Homo sapiens: one gene and its partners. The protein of the gene in region 2 interacts with the protein of the main gene of each other region in a pairwise test. Each region holds a gene or a part of one and is shown on either strand. Other genes may lie near its edges.

Evidence for each region. Proteins that work in one complex are often made in the same cells at the same time.
Region 1: the proteins of ENOX2 (region 2) and MAGEA11 interact in binary tests that used the Homo sapiens proteins (3 or more experiments, as listed by UniProt).
Region 3: the proteins of ENOX2 (region 2) and CIB3 interact in binary tests that used the Homo sapiens proteins (3 or more experiments, as listed by UniProt).

The regions. Positions count from the first base shown.
Region 1 is NC_000023.11:149,715,027-149,717,774, reverse strand, and holds the end of MAGEA11 (melanoma-associated antigen 11), read right to left. Parts: intron 2,172-2,748; coding exon 2,098-2,171; intron 2,023-2,097; coding exon 999-2,022; 3' UTR 507-998; downstream 1-506. UniProt on the Homo sapiens protein: Acts as androgen receptor coregulator that increases androgen receptor activity by modulating the receptors interdomain interaction. May play a role in embryonal development and tumor transformation or aspects of tumor progression.
Region 2 is NC_000023.11:130,893,184-130,900,222, forward strand, and holds part of ENOX2 (ecto-NOX disulfide-thiol exchanger 2), read right to left. Parts: intron 1-7,039. UniProt on the Homo sapiens protein: May be involved in cell growth. Probably acts as a terminal oxidase of plasma electron transport from cytosolic NAD(P)H via hydroquinones to acceptors at the cell surface.
Region 3 is NC_000019.10:16,170,520-16,177,938, forward strand, and holds the start of CIB3 (calcium and integrin-binding family member 3), read right to left. Parts: upstream 3,007-7,419; 5' UTR 2,957-3,006; coding exon 2,906-2,956; intron 2,678-2,905; coding exon 2,643-2,677; intron 1-2,642. UniProt on the Homo sapiens protein: Acts a an auxiliary subunit of the sensory mechanoelectrical transduction (MET) channel in hair cells. Plays a role in regulating hair cell MET channel localization and function.

The sequences.
Region 1 (2,748 bases), about 19 Mb from region 2:
GTCCTTCTTTTGGCCACTTGAGAGACATTATGCAGTACTGAGAAAACAAATGAATTAAGGGACAGAGGTGTACTTCAGGCTGCAAAGAGTGAGAATAGAATGGGCTCTAGATGAATTCAGGCCAACCTTGTGGTTTACCAGTGATATGATCTTGGGAAAGTTACCAAGCACCATGAGACTCAGGTTCATCCAGAAAATGGGTTTGATAGACCATTTTTTTAGGACTGTTGTAATGTATAAAATGTATTAAAACACCTGGGATGATGCCTGGCATGTACTGGATATTTAATGATTGACAGCTATTTCTAGTATTACTGTGACCCCAGGTGCTACCACTCTCTACTTTGGAATATTTTTTATTGTCCAGGACATCTCAGAGAATCTGCAACTCAGTAGGAAACTGCATTTCCTTGGTGAATATGTATGTGGGGGGAGGGGGGTGTACATGTGTGTATGGGTGTGTACTTTCATAGAACAACAGATTAATATGGATAAGAAGACAAGAATTAATGACCTTCTCCTTTTATTTCTCTGTTTCACAACACCAGTTCAGCTTTATTGTTAAGTTCTTACATTCTCCAAGAAAATACCTATTGCAAATCACAGCAAGATGGAAGATTTCCCAAAATGTTTTACAAAATGGCAAACACTTGCACTTGAAATGGATAAGCAAAACAACATGTGTGGTCAGTATCATCCATACACTTAGATGTTGAAGCTAACTAAAACTTTTATTACAGGAACAATATTTGAAAATTACCAAAGGGAAACAAAAAGAAATCTCCAAGTCACCCGATGGAAGAGAAACCTAAAGGCAGTATACAATGTGTTCCCTTCCATTCACTGTGCCTTCTACTACTGAGAACACTGACTTCTCTCATCAAACACAGAGGGAAGAATGGGCCTGATTTCACACAGGACAGGGAAACTGCTGGGTGTGGCCCTGAAGCATGCATTGGCCCATTTCCCTGCCCGCTGGCCCTGGTTGCATCTCATGCTCAGACTCCCTCTCCCTCCTCTCTCAAAGCATCTTCATACAGGGATGGGTAAGAAGTGGGATCCCTCCCATTGGCATTGGCTATGTACTCAAGAACTTTCATCTTGCTGGTCTCAGCGTGGGCCCTTGGACCCCACAGGAACTCATAGCATGCAGGATCAGTGCCGGGCACCTGCCGGTACACCAGGTACTTTTCCTGCACCCAATTTTGGGTAAGGAGCCTCTTGGGCTCCCCAAAGAGGAAGTGCTCCCTTCCAGCATACACCCCCATAATGCTCAGGACTTCCCACATAACCTCTTCAGGGATGCAGTTCCCCTCCATGAAGATTACACCCAGGACTATTATCAGGAGGCCAGACTTGGGCATGCTCTGCTCATTACACTGTATGCCATCATAAGAGAGGTTGAGGGAGGTGACAAGGACATAGGAGTGGCTAGTGGGGTCCACTTCCTTCACATCAATGCCAAAGAGCAGTTGCATGCATACAGAGGCTTCCCTAAATATCTCAGGAAAGTAGTCCTCATAATTTTTGATGACACTCCCCAGCATTTCTGCCTTTGTGATCAGCCCCTTGACTCGATACTTGCGGAGCAATAAATGAACCAAATCAATTATCTTGTCATGTAGTATATCTTGGGAAAAGGACTCAGGGTCTATCAGGTCAGGCGAGGTACTTGGCCCCTCCTTTTCTTGGCTGCCAGAGCCCTCATCAGATAGGCTCCCAAAGATGGCATCCATGGCAGTGGGAGAGAAGGACTCTTCCTGAGGACTCTGGGGAGGACTTGGTGACTCAGCAGCAGGCAACTCCTCTAGAGTGCCCACATTCAGAGTAGAGGAGAAGAAGGCAGCCTCCTGCTCCTCAGCTTGGAGAGCCTGTGCACCCACCAGGCCCAGGTCTTCTTCTTGGGCCTGAAGGCCTTCCTCAGGCTTGCAGTGCTGACTTCTTTGCTCAAGAGGCATGATGACTCTGGTTAGGTCAGCAGGCCGAACTGTGGGAAATATCTGGGTGATGGGGCCCCACAGCCTGGGGAGAGAGGGAGCGTGAGAACAGACTCAGATGAGATATGAACCATGGAGAATCTAACAAAGGCCTACTTACACTTGTTCTCCTCCAGTGATCCTCTGGGTTCTCCTGGGACTCCTGTCCTCCAGGTTGGCCTGTTCTCTAAAAACCTGAAAAAGGAAGTGAGAAGGCTGCTCAAGATGCAGCTGGACATCAGAGCAGGAGGCTCCAGGACTGAGGTAGGGCAGGTGAGGTTGCAAGCTGGGGGTCCCTTTCTGTACTGGGGCAGGTGGGGCCATTTGTAGATTAAGGGTGAACATCTCATCTTGACTACTGGCACTGCCTAGGCTTCCTGTGTTCTGAGATCTGAAGACATTGCTTGAGACCAAGGCCTCACTGCTCAGTTTTTGGAGCTTCTAGAAGAGGAATCATGGGGCCATCAGGCTGCAGACTGCAAGCACCCATCCTGGCACCCCAGCACTGTCAGAAAGGTGGGCCAAACTCTGTGAGTTTCTCACTTTTTTGGAGTGGATGGTCCCCTCTGTGCTCAGGGCCCTCACCTTTCTCCTGCCAGGGCCTGGAAGACACAGCTCTCCTGACCTGAGAAACTCTCAGATCAATAGCTCTTTCCTGATATGAAAGAGGACATGTGGGGATACACATCTGGCCACATGTACACAGGGCTACCCAGGAAGGACAGCAAGAGATGGTGACAGTCAGCAGGGTCCATGTGTCCTCGGGTAAGGA
Region 2 (7,039 bases):
TTTCTATATTTAAAAGTACTTCAAACTAGAAAGTTAAAAGATAATTTGTTGAGCACCAACCTCTTTTACCTAGTGTCTCAGTTGCCATTTTCAGTAGTGAGGGCATTGGGTTAATAGTAGAGATATTGGAAACAATGGTGGAAGGGTGGGGAAAAATAACAGTCACAGATATATATTGGGGGCCTACTATATGCAAGACACTGTGCTAGGCACTTTGGGGAATTCAAAGAAGTAAAAAATACAGCCCCTGAGAGGGCTCCCACTGTAAGTAATGGAATGCCAAAGCAGTGTCTGAAAGGGTAACTGGCTGGAGCAGAGTTCTGTAAGACAGAAGTACAAAGATTAGAAAGGTAGGTTGGAGCCAGATTGCAGACAGTACTAAAGGTCAGGCTGAAGAGTTTGGACTTCATCCTATGGATAATGGGAAGCCATTTACAGTATCTGAGTCAGGGAAAGAACATGATCTAAAACTGACTGGCTAGATGGTACAATTTGTTTGGGCACAGGTACCTTCAACATGCATTTGTTTTATATTCATGTACATCTGGTACGTCTATCCACTTCCCATATCTGGATGTGACGTTTAAGGATTTCCAACATGCTGGTTGCTGCTTATTTTTCAAATAGCCACTTCCTGACATCTCTTCAGCCTTTCCTTTTTCCTCCCCCAAATCCCAAGGGCAGCTGACCAGCACGTGCCTCAGCCCTGCTGACTCAGCAAGCAATAAATACGCCTCATAGAATGCTTTTGAAATGAAGCTGCTGTGCTTCAAAACTGATTTCTTTCCTTCATGATAATCAAACCTCAATTACTGCTGGAATCACTGATTTGAGTTGGAAAGAATGAATATTCATCTGAGTAACATGTGAAGGAGTGCAGGAAGTTATGTCCTGTGTGCAGAAGGAAACAATTGTTCAAAGTGATCTCTGTATATGGAAAGAAACCCTAGCAGAGATGGCATTGCTGAATAGTAGCAAGTGATTAGGGTAAAACCTCTCAAAGACTGCCAAATTAGAAAGTGGACTTTATAATCCTTTGGATATACACCCAGTAATGGGATTGCTTGGGTCAAATGGTATTTCTGGTTCTAGATCCTTGACCATGGCACATGTATACCTATGTAACAAACCTGCACGTTCTGCACAGTATCCTAGAACTTAAAGTAAAATTTAAAAAAAAAAGAAAAAAAAAAAAGAAAATTTCCTGATGTCTATGATGGTATTGTAGCTATATATGGAATATCCTTTTTTTTTTTTTTGGTAGAAGATTCAAATAAAATATTCAGAAATGATGAAGCATCATATTAAAATTTTATTCTCAAATGGTTATTTTAATATTCTTTATACCATTCTTTCAACTTTTTTCTAAATTGAAAGTATTTCAAAATAAAAATAATAAAAAAAAAGAAAGTGGACTTCATCTGTCTTCAGCTTTTCCCCCCATGAAGTCCAACCTCCAGTGCAATCATGTTACTCCTCCCATTTAAAACCCTGTGTTCACTCATCCCTACATATAGGACAATGGCCATACTTCTTAGCAAGCTGACTTACTTCACCCAACCAGCCACAGGATACCTTTCCAGACTCTTATCCTGTCCCCCTTTCCCATGCTTTCAGTGGTTCACACACAATATCTTACCTTTTTCTGAACTATGCAGTTTTACACATTTGACTGCCTTGCATGTGTTGATGGTCCCTCTGCCTGGAATCCTTGCCCATCACCTCTTTGTCCACATAGAGACTAGGCAATGCCCCTCATCCTTTATGATTCAGCACAGTTAGACTCTGATCTCTAAGTTGTCCACCCCCAGCTGTAATTCCCTCCTCCATATTCCCAGAACACCTTCTCTCTCTTTTGGGTGCTTTTCACATCAAAATACGATCACTGGTTTGAGTGTCTATCTCCCCTATTAGACTGTGAGCTCCTTAAGGGCAGGGATTACATCACATCAAATTCATTATTATAGTCCTGGTGTTTAGCATAGGGTCTGGTCCTGTATATATGCTCAAATGTCTATTGAATGAATGAGTTTGAACATCAAGTACTCCTTGAAGTCAAACTCAGCATCTCTTGAAAGGTGAAAATTAGAATGGTATGTGACCAGAGTAATCCTAGTGAAGTATGTTTGAGGACCTGACTGAAGAAAAGCTGATAGGAGGACACCTTATGGGGGCTTATTGTGGGGCAGTTTCTATCCCAGGAAACTCTTATTAGCAGTTGTTGCTGGCTAAAAATGAAGAGCAGCTGGAGCAGATGACAAGGGCCCTTACTGGGGATTTCTCCATCCTTATCTTTCATAGTTCACCACTAAAGCAATGTTGTTCTCTGAAGTAACATTTTCCATAGTGTCTCAATTCTCCTGAATGATTGCCATATTCATTTGTGCTCTGCCTACCGAGGCATTTGGACCAGCTTTGTTAAAGTGTGGTCACTGAAAGCTCTTTGATTCTTCTACTCACCTATCGTTATTATGCTAAAGAACAACATTTTGTGAGTAAGAGACCACTGAAAAACAGAGCACCAGAAAGGGGAGGGAAGCAGAGCTAATAAAAATTATCTTTTTTCTCCTCCTAGATTGCCAATGTATTTCACCATGTTTCCATCCTACAGTGTTTTATACTATGTATCAGTAAAGGCAAAAAAAGGAAAATTAAGACTTCAGCAAAACTTTACACTTTGTAGGCAAGAAAAAAAGGAAGCAACACTGAGGGATAGAACATAAATCTTTAGACATATGATCAGTAGCCATTTCTGAAAAGTACACATTTGGGCTGTTTTAAACAAATAGCAAAAAGCAATTAGGTCTTTCTGACTAAACTGAGGTGTATGCTGATTTCTTTTTTTAAACTAAGTCTGTTTTGATCTTCAAAAATGTCAGACTGGTAAACACTTTACTTTTTTGCACATATAAATCTAAGAGCCAAGCCTAGCTTGAGGAAGATTTAAGAGACATAAAATTTGTCTGAGGTGTCTGCCAAATCTCTACAGCAGAGACAGAAACCCTGGAAAAGCTGACACAATCATAACTCTCACATCACCAGCAGGCTTGTGCAGGGCTGGGAAGCACAGAAAGTCACTGTTCCTTCTCTCATACTGTTTGTAAACAGAGAAGCAGATCATTTGCTTATCAGCTATCTGGTAGCTCATTTTTGCCTAGCTATCCCACTGAGAAAAAAAAAACAAAAAAACACACATCCCCACGGGTACATATCCCAGTTTTCAGCTGGGTGAATTTTCATTTATAAGATGGGCCCGCTTGTTAAAATTTTCTCTTTTATTTGCTCTTGAATTCTCTTACTCTTGTGTGCTTGCTTGCTCTCTCTCTCCCTTGTTCTTTCTCTTTTTATACAGAAGGCATTAAAAGGGGTATTTATGAGTATCTAGTGCAGTGCCTAACGGAGTGCTTTCACATAGTAAGCCTACAATAATTCATCGAATGAAGTGAAACCCTATCTGTAATTTCTACATTCAAATTATTTGATCATGTAGCAGGAAAACTATAGATTTTTTTTCCTGGAGTATTTAAAAGTAACAATTCCTTATAAAGAAATATTTTACTCAGATGACTCATGCTTAGGACTTCCATCCCTTAGAAATCATCCATTTTTGCACAATGGGTATTATCTGTAAGGAAAATGAAGGGAAGACTACACTTCAGGATCCTGAATGACCACTGATACGTTATTGTAGAGAAAATCAGATATCCTATATACACTCGACTGTATGTCGTATGGTAATCCACTACATATGTCTAAAATCACTTAACAATGCAAGAATATAGTGCACACATGGGCTGCGTTCTGTAAGTAGGATTAACTATTGAATTCAACCAAGGTCTTCCCTGGGGACAGATTGCTGGAAAATACATCTACATGACATTTAAAAAAATAAATTAACCAATGACATCGGCTCCCATGAGACACATTGTTTCTTGTACATTCAATTCTATCACGGTTTTCTGTAGCTCTCTGTTGACATACCCATCCCAAATGACACAGAATTTCAAAAAATAAAGAAAAACAGAGCAACTGGAGCTATTCCATCTCTCCTGTGTGAAGTGTTATGTACACAAAGGAAAGATTTCCGTACATGAGCACAATGTGAACCACGACAGGGTGAGATCATGTCAGTTGGCTGTTCTTGTTATGCTGTGGTCACATATAACTTGCCCAAGGGAGTGTACAAAGCCTGTTTTCTTCCTGACAAGGACCAGCAGGGATTGCTGGAAAATAAAGAAAACAGAGTTATGGCAGGAGGTTTTAAATTTTCTCTTTAAAAAATGCCCTTTATTATGATAACTTTTCTTCTCGCTTTGATGTATTTAGTTTTCCTCATCTGTAAAATAGGAATAACTATTTTATGTGTTTAATATTTTTGCTCTGAGAATTAAATACCAGTAGATTGCCTGGCATAAAATAGCTAATCCATACAGTCCACATCAACATTGGCTAACATTAATTAAATACCTATTATGTGCCTGCCACTGGCCAAAGACCCCCCAAAAAAGTAAATCACAGAAGGAAAACCTAATACTAGAGGAGCAAGCAGGGAGCTGATTTTCAAAGCTTTTATCAGGCAGTCTAAGAAGTCTGGATATTACTCTGAAGACAATGGACAGCCTTTGAACTATTTTATATAGAGACCAGATGGTTTTAGATTTGTGATTTACAAAAATCATTCTGTCAGCATTGGTAAAGAGTAGACTAGAAGGGAAGCAGGCTGGAAGCAGCAGTAATCCAGGCTAGAAGTGATGCATGTGTGTTGGGGGGTGGAAGGTATGCCCCAAAGTAAGACAATGGTGGACACCGGGAAAACATTTTAAAATAACTTTTTTTTTTTTTGAGACAGAGTCTCACTCTGTCTCCCAGGCTGGAGTGTAGTGGTGCAATCTTGGCTCACTGCAACCTCCGCCTCCTGGGTTGAAGCAATTCTCCTGCCTCAGCCTCCCGAGTAGCTGGGATTACAGGCGCATGCCATCACGCCCGGCTAATTTTTGTATTTTTAGTAGAGACGGGGTTTCCCCATGGTGGCCAGCCTGGTCTCAAACTCCTGACCTCAGGTGATCCGCCTGCCTTGGCCTCCCAAAGTGCTGGGATTACAGGTGTTAAGCCACTGTGCCTGGTCAAAATAACTTTTTAAAAATTAACAAATATACTGTAGATTAGAAAATAAAAATACGCAAAAGGTTAAAAGTAGAAGTCATATGCAATCTTACTACTTGCAGCAAACCCCTATTAATATTTTTTTGTGTGTTTACCATTACAGGATTTTTCCTATGTATGCCTACACAGATGTGTGTGTGCGTGTGCGTGTGTGTGTGCGTGTGTGTGTGTGTATTATGTATATGTTTTTAAACTGGGATCTGTCACTCTGTACTGAGAGTTCTATGATGTGAATTTTCTCTTAATATATCAAAAACAATTTTCCACATCATTAAATATTGTTTGGTAAAATCAACTTACAAGGCTACTTAGTAATCCATTCTATAAATGTACCACAATTGATTTCATTCAAATCCCTAGTATTGTACATTTAAGATGTTCTTTTTTTTCTTTTTTTTTTTTTTGTTGTTTTTGCTATTAGTATAAACAACTCTGGGATAGATGTCCTGAGTATTAAATTTTTGGAAACATCATGATTGTTTCCTCAGCATAGAGCTCTAGAAGTTGAAGTGGTAGGTTAAAAGCTGTATTCTATTAAGGTTTCTGATACATATTGACGAATTGCTCTCCAGAAGAGCTGTATCAAATTATAGTCCCAGCAGCAGAGTCTATGAGTAGGAGATGAACTTGAGAGTGATGTCAAGGACGGAGTGTACTGGACTTGGGTGGGTAGAAGGAAGGATGTTTCCTGGCAAAGTATCAGGGCAGGAGGAAGATGAACTCTGTCAAGAGCAGCAAAGTAATGGGCAGGGCTAAGGAATAGGTGCCTGGATAGGTAAATGATAGGAAAGAAAAAGGTAAGATAACCAGGGGAGAGTGAAGAAAAGAGGGAAAAAGTAGGTCTTTCATGAAATTATGGGCACTTTAATTTACTCCTTTCTTCAGCAAAAGTAGCAAATGTAGCAAACAGCTAGTCTTTTCATAGCATTTGGCACTCTGTGCTACCAAGGTCCCCAGTTATATTCATGCAAATCTGTTTATCAATTCTTTTCACCCAATAACCATTTATTAGGTGACTACCATGTGTCAAGTGCTCTTCTGGATGCTATGGGTATGGAGATGAATGAAACCTGGTCCCTGCCCTCAAGGAGTTCACAGTCTAGTGGGGAACACAGAGACATCCACAGACCGACACCCTACAGTGTGGTACAGGCTAGGACGGAGGTAACTAAGTGCAGGGTCCTGTGGAAGCCCGAGGCCTAACATTGCCTTGTGCGTGCATTCATGTATGTTGGGCAAGGGCTGTCGGGAAGGCTTCACAGAGGTGTTGACATATGAGCTGAGTCTTAAAGGCTGAGGAATTTCTTGCATGCCTAAGGGTCACAGATCATGGTCATATTCCTAATCAGTGCCTTGAATATTTGTGCTACTGCTCTCAAGGACACTGAGTAAGGTGGGAAGGATGTTTGTGTGTAATCCAAATCCACTCGAGTGGTAACTATAGCTTCCATTGTAATCTTAATGAACATAGAAACATAGCATGTTTTGGCAATATTATTGCTCACCATACAATATAAAGGACAAGAGGCAAGGGGGGCATGCAGACTTTTAAAACAATTCTGGTAACACTGACAAAATAATATTAACATCCACCAAGTCCTAATAATTTTACCTCCTAAATGTTTCTCAAATCTCTTCGCTCCGCTCACGTCACTACTCTTGGGTCTTTATTGTCTCTCTGTGGAACAGAGTAGCAGCCTCATCATATCCACCTCCACTGTATCCTTCCCACTGTCATTTTCCTTACAGTAAAAATCTGATCGTGGTGCTCTTCTAAAACATGTTAATGGTTTCTTATGGCCTACAAGCAGCACTTCCCAAATTTCAGTCTGAGTATTACTTAGTGATTTTTACCATATTCACACACAATGTGTAC
Region 3 (7,419 bases), on a different chromosome or scaffold from region 2:
CCTTATAATGGGAGGAAGAGGCCGGATGCAGCGGCTCATGCCTGTAATCCCAGTACTTTGGGAGGCCGAGGCGGGTGGATCACCAGAGGTCAGGAGTTCGAGACTAGCCTGGCCAACATGGTGAAACCCCATCTCTACTGAAAATACAAAAAATTAGCTGGGCGTGGTGACGGGCACCTGTAATCCCAACTACTCGGGAGGCCGAGGCAGGAGAATCACTTGAACCTGGGAGCTGGAGGTTGCAGTGAGCTGAGATCGTGTCACTGCACTCCAGCCTGGGCAACAAGAACGAGACTCTGTCTCAAAAAAAAAAAAGAAAAGAAAAAAGAAAGAAAGAGGCCGGGCGCGGTGGCTCACGCCTGTAATTCCAGCACTTTGAGAGGCCGAGGCAGGTGGATCACGAGGACAGGAGATCAAGACCATCCTGGCTAACATGGTGAAACCCCGTCTCCACTAAAAATATAAAAATTTAGCCAGGCGTGGTGGTGGGCGCCTGTAGTCCCAGCTACTCCGGAGGCTGAGGCAGGACAATGGTGTGAACCCGGGAGGCGCAGCATGCAGTGAACCGAGATCAAGCCAGTGCACTCCAGCCTGGGCAACAGAATGAGACTCGGTCTCAATAAAAAAAATAAATAAATAAAAAATAAAAAAGAAAGAAAGAAAAGAAGAAAGAAAGAAAAAAAAGGAGGGATTCCTCAATGGGGCAGAGCAGAGACAAACAGCTAATAGTCACATTTTTTCTAAAGGGCAGACAAAAGATATTTTGCAAATAACTGAATACCACACACACTATCCAGATTATAAGGCCAGTTCTCCACTCAGAAGCCCTCACCTGTGACACCATACCTTCATTAGGGCATGCTGAGCAGCAGCCTTGCAGAGACCATCCTTGGTGGGTCTGAGGTCCCCAAGCTGCTAGGGACTGTCTCTGAGAGAGACATGAGTCCCTAGGTCATATGATGACTAGGAACTCAATGAAGGTGGGGTGGGGAGACCTAGAACTTTCATCCTGACCACTCAGTTCCCTGTCGGGGTCCCATCAGGGAATACCCTGGGTTTAGGTTTCTGTGTGGCTCTGAGCATGTTCCTCTCCTCTCCCTCTCTGTGCCTTGGTTATTCTATCTGATAAGCAAGAAGCTTGGGACAGACAAAATGTCTGTCCTTGGGGCCTTGGGGCTCTGTGCATTTACCCTTCAGCCTGGGATCAGCCCCGCCCTGTCTGAGCCTCAGTTTCCCCATCAGTAATTTGATCGTGATGGCCGAGGTGACCCTGCAAGCTGTCCTCACCCAAACAATGGGGCTCACTAGTAAAAGGTGTGGCCATCAATAATGGATGTCCTGTTACTACACAACTGGGGCCTTGGCCCCGATCACACTGCAGCTGAACCCTGGCCAGCTTGGGTTTCATAGCTCCAAGTTCATGGGTCGGGGCCCCTGGGCAATGGCCCCACAGGCCGAGTGATGATGTGGGATACTCATCTGTGCCCATCGTGCTGGGTCACGCCAGGGACCTGCAGCAGCCTTGGGCCACCTCCTCACACCCTCATCTTAATGCCAAGCCCACAACCCAGACTGGGCTCTGGACTTTGCACCTGGGCTCCCAGCCTCAAGTCCCAGTCTCAGGAGAATCTTTATCTTTCATTTTGTTTTTCTGAGGCAGAGTCTAGCTCTGTCACCCAGGCTGGAGCACAGTGGCGTGATCTCGGCTCACTGCAACCTCCACCTCCCAGGTTCAAGCAATTCTCCTGCCTCAGCCTCTTGAGTAGCTGGGATTACAGGCACCCACCACCTCGCCCAGCTGATTTTTGTATTATTAGCAGAGATGGGGTTTCACCATGTTGGCCAGGCTGATCTTAAACTCCTGACCTCAGGTGATCCACCCACCTTGTCCTCCCAAAGTGCTGGGATTACAGGCATGAGCCACCGCGCCCAGCCTCAGGAGAATCTTTCTAACGTGCTGATGGTCTCTCCCCTGCTCATGCATGCTCCATAGCTCCCTGCCACCCTTGGGAGAAAGCCCAAGCTCATCAGCCTAGAGACTGGGACAGTATGACAAGATGTGACTTGTCAGCTTCTCCATCTCTGCCTCTGTCCACTGACCACACCTGCCCCCCTTCCCCATTTGAGTCCCAACAAATTGGAAATACCAGTTGGGCATGGTGGCTCACACCTGTAATCCCAGCACTTTGGGAGGCTGAGGCAGGGGGATCGCTTGAGCCCAAGGGTTTAAGACCAGCCTGGGCAACATAGTGAGAGCCCCATCTCTATAAAAAAATACAAAAATGAGGTACATGTGGTGGCTCGCACCAGTGGTCCTAGCTACTCGAGAGGCTGAGGTGGGAGGATCACCTGACCTTGGGAGATCGAGCCTGCAATGAGCCATGATTGCACCACTGCACTCCAGCCCAGGCAATAGAGACAGACCCTGTCTCAAAAAAAAAGAAAAGAAGGAAGGAAGGAAGGAAGGGAGGGAGGGAGGGAGAGAGAGAGAGAAAAGAGAAAGAAAGAAAGAAAGACTACTTACACACACACACACACACACACACACACACACACACACACACACCAAATTGCAAATATCCTCCAGCAATGAATAGAAAGTTGTTTTTCCAGATCTTCTCTCCCTTCCTCCCTGGACTGACCTCATGATCTCCTTCCTTGTGAAAAATGTGCAGTCCTGTGGAGAGAGGTGTTGTCTTAACCCGAACCCTGCCTCTGGGGCCTCCTCCCACGGCCTCCTCCCTCCACCCCACACTCACACAGATGGCCTGATGCTGCCACACACAGAGCAGAACCAGGAACCCAGGCGGACGGTACACCCAGATGAAGGCATTCTGTTCCCATTTCCCAGACCACGGAACCAAAGTTGTCAAACCCACTGAGGACCCATCCTGCCCCCCTCTACCTGATACGCTTCCAGCTGCTCGTGTGTGAAGACTGTCTGCTTGTTGCCCATGGTGTGAACCACAGCCCAGACTTGGGGATGCACCCCAAAGGCTCCCAGCTTCCTCGGGGCCACACGGGTTGCCAGGCTGTTGTGTACCAGTGTCTGGGCAAATCTCCCTGCCCTGGCTGTCACCCACCCACCTACGCCATCACCCCCTGCTTGATGAGACTCAAATTACAGCCAGGCTCTCTGGACAACAGCCTGAATGTGTCCATGGGTAAGGATAAGGGCTGTGGGATGTCACAGAGAAGACCTCAGTGGGGAGGCCACATCTGCCACCACAAGGTGAGGCTGGGGTTATGGGGCACACTCAAGAGACAGGCAGGGTATACAGAAGGGCTATGGGCACACTGCAGCTCAAATCCCAGCTCTCTGCCCACTAGCTGTGTGGCCCTGGGCAAGTCACCTGACTTCTCTGAACCTCATTCATGAGATGAAAATTACATTATACCTACCTCATAGGGTCATTCTCAGGATCTGAGATTTAAAAAAAAAAAAAAAAGGTTTTGACTGGGCAAGGTGGCTCACACCTGTAATCCCAGCACTTTGGGAGGGCCAGGCAGGCGGATCACCTGAGGTCAGGAGTTCAAGACCAGCCTGGCCAACACGGCAAAACCCCATCTCTACTAAAAATACAAAAATTAGCTTGGCATTGTGACACATGCCTGTAATCCCAGCTACTCCAGAGACTGAGGCAGGAGAATTGCTTGAACCCAGGAGGTGGAGGTTGCAGTGAGCCGAGATCCCGCCATTGCACTCCAGACTGGGTGACAGAGTAAGACTCCATCTCCAAAAAAAAAAAAAAGGTTTTGGCTGGGCGAGGTGGCTCATACCTGTAATCCCAGCACTTTAGGAGGACAAAGCATGAGATTCACTTGAGGCCAGGAGTTCAAGATCAGCTTGGGCAGCATGGCAAGGCCCTATCTCTACTAAAAATACAAAAATTAGCTGGATGTGGTGGTGCATGCCTGTGGTCCCAGCTACTCAGGAGGCTGAGGTGGGAGGATTGCTTGAGCCCAGGAGTTTGAGGCTGCAGTGAGCCATGATTGCATCACTGCATTGGGAACATAATGGTGAACAAGCTAGATGAAGTTCTGGGGTGTGCATTGACATTATTATTTTATTACATTTTATTTTTTTGAGACAGTCTCACTCTGTTGCCCAGGCTGGAGTGCAGTGGTGTGATCTCGGTTCACTGCAATCTCTGCCTCCCAGGTTCAAGTGATTCTCCTGCCTCAGCATCCCAGGTAGCTGGGACCACAGGTGTCCACCATGCCAAGCTAATTTTTTTTGTATTTTTTTTTTTTGAGACGGAGTCTCGCTCTGTCACCCAGTCTAGGGTGCAGTGGCGTGATCTCGGCTCACTGCAAGCTCCACCTCCCGAGTTCAGGCCATTCTCCTGCCTCAGCCTCCCGAGTAGCTGGGATTATTACAGGCGCCCACCACCACGCCTGGCTAAGTTTTGTATTTTTAGTAGAGACAGAGTTTCACTATGTTGGCCAGGCTGGTCTCGAACTCCTGACCTCAGGTGATCCACCCGCCTCGGCCTCCCAAAGTGCTGGAATTACATGTGTGAGCCACCTCGCCCGGCCCAAAGGGCAGATCTAATGTAGCAGCTACCAACTTTATTAAGGCCCAGAATCCTCTTGGGTGGAGAATCTGAGAGTCTAAATTTCTTAGCCTGGCCCTCCATGCCCTTCTCACTTTGGGTCTCACCTGTGTTTTCTCTACCTGGCCTGGACTATTGCAATGTTTCCCAGCAGGCTTTCCTGCCTCGGCCTCATCAAGCATCCTCTGCCAAATCTGTGCAGTCATCTTGTAAAATGTGACCCTGATCAGGCTTGAAAGATGCCTCAAGGATGACTTTTTTTTTTTTTTGAGACAGGGTCTCACTCTGTCACCCAGGCTGGAGAGCAGTGATACAATCATGGCTCACTGCAGCGACCCTCCTTCCTCAGCCTCCCAGGTAGCTGGCACTAGAGGCACATGCTGCCACATCCGGCTAATTTTTTTTTTTTTGTATTTTTTGTGGAGACAGGGTCTGTCTATGTTGCCCAGGCTGGTCTTGAACACCTGGCCTCAAGTGATCTACCCACCTTAGCCTCCCAAAGTGCTGGGATTACAGGCATGAACCACCATGCCCAGCCATCCAAGAATAACTTTCAAAAAATAAACAATATCAAGTGTTGGTGAGGGTATGGAGCAACTGGAATGCTCATACATTGCTGGTGTTGATGCAAAATGGTATAGACACTCTGGAAAATAGGTTGGCTGGGTTTTTTTTAAATAGAATTAAACTTAACCTTACCACAAGATTCAGGGCCTGGTATGGTGGCTCATGCCTGTAATCCCAGCACTTTGGGAGGCCAAGGCAAGAGGACCACTTTAGCCCAGGAGTTGGAGACCAGCCTAGGCAACATGGTGAAGCCCCATCTCTACAAAAATACAAAAATTAGCCAGGTTTGGTGGTATCCAGCTACTTGGGAGGTTTGCTTGAGGTAGGGAGGTCGAGGATGAAGTGAGCTATGATCACTCCACTGTACTGCACTCCAGCCTGGGAGACAGAGTGAGATCCTGTCTCAAAAAAAAAAAAAAAAAAAGACTCCTGGGTGTTTACCCAAGGGAAATAAAAACCTATGTTCAACTGAGAGTGACCCCTAATGTAAACTATCCACTAACCACTGTGGGTGATAATGATGTATCAGTGTCAGTTCATCAATTGTAACAGACTAGCTACTGTCATGCACTTGCATGTGGAGGATGTTGATTGTAGGGGAAGCTATACAAGTATGAAAGCAGCAGGTGTACGGGAAATCTCTGTACCTTCTGATCAATTTTGCTGTGAAACTAAGACTGCTCTAAAAAAATAAAGTATAGTGTAAAAAAAAAATTTAAACTAGGTTCACACAAAAACCTGTCATGCCCACAGAATGGGACAAATGCTCAGTGCTCAAGTCATTTATATAAAATGGCATAATATTTGCATATAGCCTGTGCACATCTTCCATACACTTTATTTATTTATTTATTTATTTTTATTTTACTTTTTCGAGTTGGAGTCTGGCTCTGTCACCCAGGCTGGAGTGCAGTGGCGTAATCTCAGCCCACTGCAACCTCTGCCTCCTAGGTTCAAGCAATTCTCCTGCCTCAGCCTCCCTAGTAGCTGGGATTACAGGTGCACACCACTGTGTCCAGCTAATTTTTATATTTTTAGTAGAGACGGGGTTTTGCCATGTTGGCCAGGCTGGTCACAAACTCCTGACCTCAAGTGATCCGGCCCACCTTGGCCTCTCAAAATGCTGGGATTACATGGGCCACCATGCCCGGCCCTCCATAGACTTTAAATTATCTCTAAATTATGTATAATATCTAATGAAATATAAATGCTACATAAATAATTGTTACACATTTTTATTTGTATTCTTTTTATTGTTGTATTATTTTTATTTTATTGGTTCCAGGTATTTTCACTCCGTGGTTTATTGAATCCATGGATAAGGAAACTGGATATGAAGGGCTAACTGTATTTGTGAATCATATATCTCATAAGGAACTACTATTCAGAATATATAAAGAACTCTCAGGGCCGGGCGCACGCCTGTAATCCCAGCACTTTGGGAGAATGAGGTGGGTGGATCACCTGAGGTCAGGAGTTAGAGACCAGCCTGGCCAACATAGTGAAACCCTGTCTCTACTAAAAATACAAAAAATTAGCCAGGTGTGGTGGTGGGCGCCTGTAATCCCAGCTACTCGGGAGGCTGAGACAGGAAAATCGCTTGAACCTGGGAGGGGGAGGTTGCAGTGAGCTGAGATCGTGCCACTGCACTCCAGCCTGGGCAACAAGAGCGAGACTCTATCTCGAAAAAAACCAAAAAACAAAACCCACGATAAAAACTAAGAACTCTTACATCTCAAAACTAGAAAGACAACCCAAATAAAAACATTATGCTGATCAAGGTAACTTTTGCAAAAAAGAGAAAAGAAGAAAACAAAAACATTATGTTGAGTGAAAGAAGCTAGAGATGAACAGTCCCATATAGTGTGATTCTATTTACATGAAATGTGCACACCACCACACCTGGCTAATTTTTTAAATTTTTGTAGAGATGGGATCTCACCATGTCGTTCAGACTCGTCTCTACCTTCTGAGCTCAACTGATCCTCCCACCTCACCCTCCTAAGTAGCTGGGACCACAGGCAGGTGCCACCGCACTCGCTAATTTTTTGTATTTTTTTTTTATTCCACTTGGGTAAATATCGAGGGGTAGGATTAATGGCTCATATTCAGTATATAAGAAACTTGCCAAACTTCTTCCTAAAGAGGCTGCACTAGTTTGCTTTCTCACCATCAGTGTTTGTAGGTTCTAGTTATTTCACATCTTCTCCAGCAGTTACTATTTTCAGTTTTTTATTTACTTTTATATTTTAATTAATTAATTAATTAATTTATTTATTTATTTATTTATTTATTT